Linked DNA regions of Homo sapiens: region 2 is linked to region 1. The links come from fine-mapping of genetic effects on gene expression. A gene starts in region 1. The other region holds a variant in brackets. All regions are shown on one strand. Distances are between the middles of the regions.

What was found. PIP is the estimated chance that this variant, and not a neighbour inherited with it, causes the effect.
Region 2: its variant is the best candidate, but not a certain one, in a credible set for the expression of RAPSN in whole blood (TOPMed, PIP 0.60).

Annotation. Positions count from the first base shown.
Region 1 is chr11:47,446,018-47,451,387 of GRCh38, forward strand. It overlaps RAPSN (receptor associated protein of the synapse), which reads right to left and starts at 3,119. Exons shown (of 8, transcript NM_005055.5): 1 at 2,756-3,119; 2 at 1,795-2,133. The coding sequence starts at 2,947. It overlaps LOC124902673 (a long non-coding RNA gene), which reads left to right. Exons shown (of 2, transcript XR_007062669.1): 2 at 1,310-1,420.
Region 2 is chr11:47,581,061-47,586,430 of GRCh38, forward strand. It overlaps NDUFS3 (NADH:ubiquinone oxidoreductase core subunit S3), which reads left to right. Exons shown (of 7, transcript NM_004551.3): 5 at 1,028-1,153; 6 at 1,289-1,408; 7 at 3,254-3,502. The coding sequence ends at 3,421. Among named protein-coding and RNA genes, the nearest start is that of FAM180B, 2.9 kb to the right of the region's middle. The variant C/T (reference allele first, on the strand shown) is at 2,027.

The DNA.
Region 1 (5,370 bases):
TCCTGGGCTCAAGCGATCCTCCCGCCTCAGCCTCCTGAGTAGCTGAAACAATAGGTGTGAGCCACCATGTCTGGTTCATTTTTAAAGTTTGGTGCAGATGGGGTCTTGCTATGCGACTCAAGCTGCTCTCAAACTCCTGGGCTCAAGCAATCCTTCTGCTTGGCCTCTCAAAGTGCTCAGATTATAGGCATGAGCCTTGCCAAATTAAAAAAAAAAAAAAACTGTTTGTAGACGCTGGTCTGGAACTCCTGGTCTTGAGCGATCCTCACCCCTCAGCTTCTCAAAGTGCTGGGATTACAAGTGTGAGCCACCAGGCCTAGCTTACTTTTCTTCAGAATTAAAAAGGTTTTTAAAAACCCCTGTCCTGCCCCAGTCCTATCTCATCTCACTGAATGGCTCCCCCTTACATCTGCTTCCTAAAAACAAAGTCCTGGCTGTCATCCTTGGTGACTCGTTTCCTCCCATCCCACCTTGGATCCATCAGCATTTATCCACTCACTAACTCCAAGATTTATTAAGCATCTACTGGGGCCAGGCATTAAATCCCCCATGGACCAAGCACAGCACAGATACCTGAGGGGAAAGGGAACAAAAATACCCAGGGTTGGCCGGGTGCGGTGGCTCACGCCTGTAATCCCAGCACTTTGGGAGGCCAAGACGGGCGGATCCCTGAGGTCAGGAGTTCAAGACCAGCCTGGCCAACATGGTGAAACCCCATTTCTACTAAAAACACAAAAATTAGCCGGGCGTGGTGGTATACGCCTGTAGTCCCAGCTACTTGGGAGGCTGGGGCAGGAGAATCGCTTGAACCCAGGAGGCGGAGGTTGCAGTGAGCCGAGATGGCACCACTGCACTCCAGCCTGGGTGACAAGAGCAAAACTCCGCCCCTGCCCCCGCCAAAAAATACCCAGGATCAGAACCTGCTGTGGCTGATCCTATCAGTTCCTTCACAGTTGGCCCTCCTCCTCTCACCTCCCTACCTCCGCACACACCTGAGACACGCCTGGCAGCCATGCTGGCCTCTGTCCTTCCTGGAACATTCCAGGAAACATTCCAGGATGCTCCCCCAGGGTCCAGCTTGGCTTTAGGGGCTCGCCCATTTTTGCCTAGAATGCTCTCTCACCAGATTTTTGCATGGCACACCCTCTCTTCTTCAAGCCATCAAACATCACCTCTGCGAGGCCCTCCGACCACTATATTTGAAATTATGACACCCCCACGCCCAGTGCTGCCAGCCCTTTGCCCCGCTTCGCTTTCTCCTAACCACTTGACTTCCTGACTGTGTTGATCGTCTTTCTTCTCCAACTAGAATGCAACCCTCGTGAGGACGGGGACTTGGCTGTTTTTCTCACTGCTACACCCTGGGTCAACAGTCTTGGGATACAGTAGCTGGTCAATAAATATTTGATGACTGACTCCATACAACCCCACTGTAAGGTGAGTCCTATTCTCCTTCATTTTACAGATCTCTCCCAAGGTTCAGAGAGGATAGGTGACTTGCCCAAGACCACACAGCAAACATGGCAGTGCAGGCCGCTGGCCTGTCCTCACAGAGGAGCCTCCCATTATTCCTCCAGGAAGTCACACAGATCAAGGTTTGAATCCTGGCTCTGCCCTTGCTGGCTTCCTGGCCAAGTTGTTACCTTCCTGGATAAGCCTTTTTGCTCTCTGATTCTCACTCTCCTCAGCCCTCCCTAAAAGGAGGGCTGAATGAGGTAGTGCCACAGGGTGTGTGCCTCATGAGAGGGGAGCCCCAAAACCCTCCACTGCTGTCCCCCTGGGGTGCAGGCCCACCTTGACCTGGGCATAGAAGCTGCCCAGGCTGCAGCACACGCGGCACTCGAGCATGGCGTCATCATTGTTGTGGGCATAGCGCAGGGCCTTCTCGAAGCTCTCCAGGGCCTTCTGGAAGACGCTGAGGCCCAGGAAGGCATTGCCCATGCTCAGGCTGACCTGGCCTCCGAGCTGGGCACCTGCCCTGGTACCAGGCAGCCCAAGGCAGGTCTTGCAGTAGGAGATGGTCTTGTGAAACTCGCACAGCTTCTCGTTGCTGCGTGCCAGGTTCAGGTAGCTCTCCAGGAGGAAGTCGGCATCCTCCAGCTCCCGGGCCGTGTCGATCTGGACCACAGCGAACTGCACACAGCGACGGTGGGCAGGTGGTGCTCAGCCTGGACTCTGAGCCTTGGACCCCAGCCTGCACTGCAGGCTCAGACCTGGAGGCCCCACACCCACCCCCCAGCCTCACACCCAAAGCAGCAGATCCCAAAGCTTCTTTTCAGACCCAGAGCTTCTACCCGCCAGCCTCAGCTACCTTCCCTACACCCCAGCCTCACCTCCCAAGCTCAGGCTTGCAGCCTTCACCTTCTATCCCAAGCCTCAGATCTGGAGTCTCCACCACCCACCCACCCCCAGCCGCAACCCTGGAGCCCACACCCCGCCAGGCTCAGACACAGAACACCAGACAGGAAGGCTGAAACCTACAATGGGCTTGAGACCCACAAACCCTCGACCCTGAGGCTGGAGAACCTCAGTCTCAGAGACTCGGGCACCACAGTTCAAGGCCACAGGCCTGAATCTGATGCCAAGACTCAGTATCTAAGACCCAGGGCCTTAGATATAAATTCAGAGCCTCGGGCCCTGGCTGCCAGCCTGTGGGACACAGGGGAGCCCGAGGAGGCCGAGAGGGGACTGGGGAGCCTGGGAGACATCCGGCCCCAGCCTGACCCTCGAACGCCCCCAGGCCGGGTACACCCACCTTCAGCATCTCCTTGTAGCGGCCCATCTCCGAGTGGGCTGTGACCAGGCAGCCCAGCACGCGGAAGCGCCCCATGAGGTCCGAGCTCTTCTCCAGCACCTTTGTCCACACCTGCAATGCCTTCTCTGTCTGGTTGGACTGGTACAGCTGGAGCCCCTTCTCGATCTGCTGCTTGGTCTGGTCCTGCCCCATCCTCCCCAAGCCCTGTGTCCCACGTGGGGTGATCCCTGGTGGCTCCGTGCCTCTAGGCACTCATGGGGCAGGAATCACAGTGCCAGCTGCCCCCCGAAACGTGGGAACAAAAGCAGCGTCGGGTGGGAGCCGGAATGGGGCCTGGATGGAGAGCAGGCGCCACCCTGGGAACAAAGCTGGTTCAGCCCGTCTGCAGCTGTCGCTGCCAGTTGGGGCCACATGGCCTCTGAGGAATGTCAGCAGCAAGGTCACGTGGGCCTCTGCTGCACCCACCCGCGAGCTGGGACGTGGCTTCCCTGAGCATACAGGCACCTTGCCACCTGGGCACCCCCTTGGGCGTCCCTTAGGCACCTCTGACACTGACCCTGACCGCCCTGGCAGCACGGGCCCTCCCAGCAGCCTTGCCAAGGGGCCAGCTCCAGCAAGTGGGCAGGCCTTGGGCTAGAGGTGCTCGGGGGAAGGAGAGCGAGGCTGGACCTGCAGGTCCGGGGAAGCCAGGTGAGCGCCCAGCCCTGCTTCTTCCCCATCAAGACACCCCTGACCGCAGCATCCCCTGGCTCTGTTCCTGAAATTCACTGAGCACCGTGGGTCACTCATCCAGGCCCAGGCTGACACCATTCACCAACTCTCACCTTAGAGAGTCTGGGAAAGACCTCCAGCTGGTGAGAGGCCTGAGCTCTAGCCTGGCTTCCTTCGAACTCTCAGTGGGACCCTAGCCAAGTGACCTGGCACCGTGGACTGAAGAGAGGAATGGTACCTGGCTCACTGGACTGCTATGAGAACTCAATGACGAAAGAGTTGAGAAGGACTTAGGACAGTGCCCGGCACAGGAAACCCCGCATGTGCTGCAAGAGGCTATTTTGCTCCATGGCAAATCCCCACCCGGGCCAGAACCCAGCCCTTGAAGTTTCAATGTCTCACTTCCAATCCCAACCCCGGGCTGAAAGGGTCCTCATAATGAGATTTAACACCAGATACTGTGGAGAAGGGCAAGGTCTTATGTAGTATTGGGGCCCCCGCTAGCAGGCCAGCTCATCCAGCCCCCCTTTCTCCTCTCTCTGCATGCCAGCCTTCTTCCTGCCCCAGGGCAAAAGTTTATCCTTTCTGGCTGGGCAATTCAGTGGTTTTTAGTATATTCACAGAGATGCACATTAATTGCCACTAATTCCAGAACATTTTAACCACCCCAAAAAGGAGACGCACACCCATCAGCAGTTACACCACTCCATTCCCCACCTTGATATGACTGAATCATGTCCCCCCGCAACCAAACGCATATGTTTAAGTCCTAACACTCAGTATCTCATAAGGTGACTGTCTTTGGAGACAGGGTCTTTAAAGGGTGATTAAGGTAAAATGAAGTCACATTGTACCTCATCCAGTTAAGACTGGTATCCCCCCCCCCTTTTTTTTGAGACAGGGTCTCACTCTGTCACCTAGGCTGGAGTGCAGTGGTGCAGTCACAGCTCACTGCAACCTCTACCTCCTAGGCTCAAGTGACCCTCCCACCTCAGTCTCCTGGGTAGCTGAGACCACAGCTGTCTAGTTTTTGTAGAGATGGGTTTCACCATGTTGCCCAGGCTGGTCTTGAACTCCTGGAGGTGGAGGTTTCAGTGAGCCGTGATTGTGCCACTGCACTCCAGCCTGAGCACCAGAGCAAGACCTTGTCTCAAAAAATAAATAAACAATAAATTTTTATTTTTAAAAATTATTTTTGAGACGGAGTTTTGCTCTTGTTGCATAGGCTGGAGTGCAGTGGCACAATCTCAGCTCACTGAGACTTCTACCTCCCGGGTTCAAGCAATTCTCCTGCCTCAGCCTCCCAAGTAGCTGGGATGACAGGTGTATGCCACCACGCCTGGCTAAGTTTTTGTATTTAGTAGAGACGGGGTTTCACCATGTTGGTCAGGCTGGTCTTGAACTTCTGACCTCAGTTGATCCACCTGCCTCAGAGCCTCCCGAAGTATTGGGGTTATAGGCGTGAGCCACCATGCCTGACCACAATACTTTTTTTTTTTTTTGAGACACTTTCCCTCTGTCACCCAGGCTGGAGTGTGGTGGTGCCATCTTGGCTCACTGCAACCTTCACCTCCCAGGTTCAAGTGATTCTCCTGCCTCAGCCTCCTGAGTAGCTGGGATTACAGCTGCGCACCACCACACCTGGCTAATTTTTGTATTTTTAGTAGAGACGGGGTTTCACCATGTTGGTCAGGCTGGTCTGGAACTCCTGACTTCATGATCTGCCCACCTCTGCCTCCCAAAGTGTTGGGATTACAGGCGTGAGCCCCCGCACCTGGCCCACAATAAATGTTTAAAAAGGACACAGTCACACAGAAGAAGAGCACGTGAAGACACAGGGAGAAGATGGCTATCTACAAGCCCAGGAGCAAGGCCTTAGAATGAAACCAACTCTGCCAATTCCT
Region 2 (5,370 bases), 140 kb after region 1:
GTTAAACTGGAACTTCAGAGTCAAGTAGATCTGAAGTTGGATCTTGGTTCTGCCACTAAATGGCTGTGGGACCTCAGATAACTCAAATATTTTGTTTAATTTTTTTTTTTTTTAGACGGAATCTTGCTCTGTCGCCAGGCTGGAGTGCAGTGGCATGATCTTGGCTCACTGCAACCTCCGTCTCCCAGGTTCAAGCGATTCCCCTGCCTCAGCCCCTTGAGTAGCTGGGACTACAGGTGCATGCCACCACGCCCGGCTAATTTTTTGTATTTTTTTAGTGAAGACTGGGTTTCACCATGTTGGCCAGGATGGTCTCAATTTCCTGACCTCGTGATCTGCCTGCCTTGGCCTCCCAAAGTGCTGGGATTACAGGCATGAGCCACCATGCCCGGCCCTTGTTTAATCTTTCTGAGCTTTCATTTTCTTACCGGGAAAATAAATATAAAGCTGTCCTTATCTTATAGAATGGTTATAAGGATCCAATGAGATAGTTCAAGTAAATTGCTTGCACACAGTGTTTTCAATACATTTAGCTATTAATATTTTACTGATTATCTACTGTTTGCCAGACTCTGGGATGGAGAGAGAAATAACATGAAGTATTTGTCCTCCAGGAGTCCCCTACACTCTAGTGAAGGAGAAAGACACCTAAACAGCTTACTGTAGTAACATATAATACAAAGGATATTAGAGGGATGCTTTAAGAAAGCAGGAGGGGCACTTGGCCCTGTCTGGGAGGCTTCTTTGAAAAGAGAGAATGTTTGTGCTGAATCTAAAATATGAGTAGGAGACCAGGTAGCCTTGTGAGATGGACCAGGGAAATATTCCTGACAAAGTGAATAGCATGAGCAAACACAGGCATGCTGACATGCTAAGCTACAGCTGTGGCCTGGGCCTTTGGAAGTAGTTGTAAGCATAGGAGAATCTTGAGGTTTTGAGGTTCAGAATAGAAGGCAGGGTCACAGGGCAGAACTCTCCCAATCAGGGACTCCCATCTCAGCCCTCCAGATCCTTCTGTTCTCCCTAGATTGTCTACAACCTGTTGTCTCTGCGCTTCAACTCACGGATCCGTGTGAAGACCTACACAGATGAGCTGACGCCCATTGAGTCTGCTGTCTCTGTGTTCAAGGCAGCCAACTGGTATGAAAGGGAGGTGAGTTACCGGATATGGTGGACCTGCCTCTGGGCCACAGTTGCAGAACTGGTTCAGACTACGGGATGCAGTGTAGCCCCTTCCCCCTGTTGTTAGTCTTGATGGATTGGCTGTTTGAGGTGGTCTCTTTCCTAGATCTGGGACATGTTTGGAGTCTTCTTTGCTAACCACCCTGATCTAAGAAGGATCCTGACAGATTATGGCTTCGAGGGACATCCTTTCCGGAAAGACTTTCCTCTATCTGGCTATGTTGAGGTAGGAGCCTTGGAACTGGGACAGCAGCCTCAGGGAGGGACTTGCAGAGAACCCAGGGGATCCCTGGGAATGGCAAGAAATACGGTCTGTGGATTGTGGTGGTTTAAGAGCATGGGCCCTGGATTCAGATCCTAGCTTCATTTTTGTAACCTGGGGCAAGTTACTTGGTTTGACTGTAACTCAGTTTTCTCATCTTAAAATGGCAATAATAATAGCACTTTAATAGATTTGTGGCTGGCATTAAATAATGTATGTGTAGGCTCACGCCTGTAATCCCAGCACTTTGGGAAGCCAAGACAGGAGGAGTGCTTGAGTCCAGGAGTTCGAGAACAGCCTAGGCAACATGGTGAAACCTCTTCTCTACAAAAAAATAGAAAAATTAACGGGGCATGGTGGTGCATTCCTGTGGTCCTGGCTGCTCAAGAGGCTGAGGTGGGAGGATCGCTTGAGCCTAGAAGGCGGAGGTTGCAGTGAGCCGAGATCACGCCACTGCTCTCCAGCCTGGGCAACAGAGTGAGACCCTGTCTCTAAATAAATAAATGATGTATGAAGCCTGCTGTATTGTAAAGGCTCAATTGATGCTGTGTGTGTGTGTGTGTGTCAGGGTCTCACTCTTGT[C/T]ACCTAGGATGGAGTGCAGTGGTGCGATCATGGCTCACTGCAGTCTTGACCGCCCAGGCTCAAGTAATCCTCCCACCTCTCAGCCCTCCGAGTAGCTGGGACTACAGGCATGCACCAACATGCCCAGCAAATTTTTGTATTTTTTGTAGAGACGGGGTTTCTCCATGTTGCCCAAACTGGTCTCGAATTCCTGGGCTCAAGTCATCTGCCCGCCTCAGCTTCTCAAAAGTGCTGGGATTACAGGTGTGAGCCACCACACCTGGCCAGTGTTATCCATTATTGTAATGATCATTTTAATGATCAAGGCAGCCTTGACGACACAGTCTGTCCCTAAAACCTGAAAGTAGAGGATTATTTTACCCTGCCCTGACTCTCTGGGAAGGCAGTGACGGGGAAGACACCAGATGCTTAGCCCTCAAAAATTACCTCTGAGGTGGGACCAGTAACGTGAATAAAGAATTTCAGTGGTGCTGCAGGTTATTTGCAGGAAGATAGTGTGTAATATTATCACTCGTGAATTTTATAGCAAAGTAACTGTTTAGAAATGCAGAGATGTGGTGCTCCAGCCCTGCTCTTTTAGTTCCCAGTCACTCCTGCTGTGTTAGTGCTTTGCATGCTCCTATTTCCCTCTTGGGCTACTTCTGGGCAGGGCTATCTCCCTCGCTTCTCCCTTTCACCCCACTCCTGCTATCTGCCTCACCTGGTTTGCCTCTTCACTCTAGCACCTGATGATCCTTACCTTATCCATTTGATCCCCAAGTAACAAGAAAAGCTGTGTCAAATGTACTGCTTTAGATCTGGACTGTGAATATGCCAAGGGCACCGGGCCTGAGGTTGTGTATCTGCCAGTTTAGGTTTACTCTTTTCAGCCACCGACTACTCCCTAATCCTGGGCAAATGCTTACCATTACCTTGTAAGAGTGTGTGGGTGGGTGAGCAGTCAGTTCGGAGCTCCTGATGTGGGAGTGGTGAGCAGGGGAATCTGACTGGTGCTGGCAGGGCATGAGAGGTATCCTACATTTTGGAATCACACACTCTAGCTGGTTGGGATGTGATCTGACGGGTAACACAGGTATGGATGGAGACTTACTGACAGAGGCTGGGACAGGAGTCAGTAACCGAGAGGAATGGGCTGGGGAAGTCACCAATAGCCTTGTGAAAAGTAGGCTCCTGTGTAGCTATAATAAGGACTTCCTTAGTGCTCAAGCCTGCCTTTTGCTCCTGCAGTTACGTTATGATGATGAAGTGAAGCGGGTGGTGGCAGAGCCGGTGGAGTTGGCCCAAGAGTTCCGCAAATTTGACCTGAACAGCCCCTGGGAGGCTTTCCCAGTCTATCGCCAACCCCCGGAGAGTCTCAAGCTTGAAGCCGGAGACAAGAAGCCTGATGCCAAGTAGCTCCAGGGAACGCATGTGGATCCTAGACAGCGCCTTATCTATGATTGAGTGTCCGTGTAAATAAATTCCTACTTAGACTTACCACTTTGTGTGTGCTTGTAATGTGGAGAAGTGATGCTTTGGGGGGGACACAGGCAGGCAGGGGTGTTTCCCTGCTCTCTTAGAGAGGCACTACTAAACCAGGGAGTCTTTGATGGGTTTTTTTTTTTTTTTTTGAGACAGTGTTTCGCTCTTGTTGCCGAGGCTGGAGTACAATGGCGTGATCTCGGCTCACCACAACCTCCGCCTCCTGGGTTCAAGTAATTCTCTTGCCTCAGCCTCCCGAGTAGCTGGGATTACAGGTGTGTGCCACCACACCTGGCTAATTTTGTATTTTTAGTAAAGACGGGGTTTCTCCATATTGGTCAGGCTGTTCTTGAACTCCTGACCTCAGGTGATCTGTCTGCTTCGGCCTCCCAAAGTGCTGGAATTATAGGCGTGAGCCACTGTGACCAGCTCTTTTATGTTTTTTTGAGATGGAGTCTCGCTCTGTCACCCAGGCTGGAGTGCAGTGGTGCTGTCGCAGCTCGCTGCAACCTCCACCTCCCAGGCCCAAGCGGTTCTCCCCCCTCAGCCTCCCAAGAAGCTGGGATTACAGATGCACGCCACCACGCCCAGCTAGTTTTTATAGTTTTTGTAGAGATGGGATTTCACCATGTTGCCCAGGCTGGTCTCGAACTCCTGGCCTCAAATGATCCACACTGGCCTCCCAAAGTGCTGGGATTATAGGCGTGAGCCACCACACTCAGCCGGAGGTCTATTTTAATGGGACTAAAGAGTGTAGTTGCAGACGTGGTGGCCTGCAGGCATGGATGTATTTCTGAGAGGGATTCTGGAGCTGTAACTGAAAGTTCTCACAGTCCACAGGGTTCAGGATGGGTGTGGCATGGTAGCCAATCACTCTTGGGCTACAGGAATCTCCCTGGTTTCTGGCCTGAGCTGAGAATGGTGGGGTTCTTTTTTTCTTCTTCTTTTTTTTTTTTTTTTGAGATGGAGTTTTGCTATTGTTGCACAGGCTGGAGTGCAATGGCATGATCTTGGTTCACTGTGACCGCCGCCTCCCGGGTTCAAGCAACTCTGCCTCAGCCTCCCGAGTAGCTGGGATTACAGGCTTGCGCCACCACGCCCGGCCAATTTTGTATTTTTAGTAGAGATGGGGTTTCTCCATGTTGGTCAGGCTGGTCTCAAACTCCCGACCTCAGGTGATCTGCCCGCCTCGGCCTCCCAGAGTGCTGGGATTACAGGCGTGAGCCACCGCGCCAGGCTGGTGGGGGTTTTTTGAGACAGGGTCTTGGTCTGTCACCTAGGCTAGAGTGAGTACAGCAGTGTGATCGTGGTTCACTGCAGTCTAGACTGCCTGGGCTCAGGTGATCCTCCCACCTCAGCCTCCTGAGTAGCTAGGACCACAGGTGTGTACCACCATACCCAGCTAATTTATTTGTAGAGATGAGGGCTCACCATGTTGCCCAGGCTGGTCTTGAACTCCTGGGCTCAAGCCATCCTCCTGTCTTGCCCTCCTAAAGTGCTGGGATTACAGGCATGAGCCACCGTGCCCGCTCTGAATTAAGAATGTTGCTAGGAAACAAGAGGTCCCAGGGCTGGGGCAAAAACCACTCAGGAGCTGCAGATTTGTCTGTCTGCCAGGGGACAATACGCCCTAGCCCAGCTGATCTGTCTGTCCAGCCTGCGGCAGAGTGCCTGAGAGGGGAGTGCTTGGCTCTGCCTGTCTGTGGGGCCGCCCAGCCAGCCCACCATGCAGTTGGAAGACTTTGCAGCTGATGCTTTTGGCAGCTGAGGGGCTCCTTGGAGGCTGGGCTGGGCCAGACTGGGTGTCGGGGCTGGCCTCAGTCGCAGGATATTTTGAGGGCGCAGACAGTAAGATGGTCTTACTGCCTGAGCTCTTTCCTACC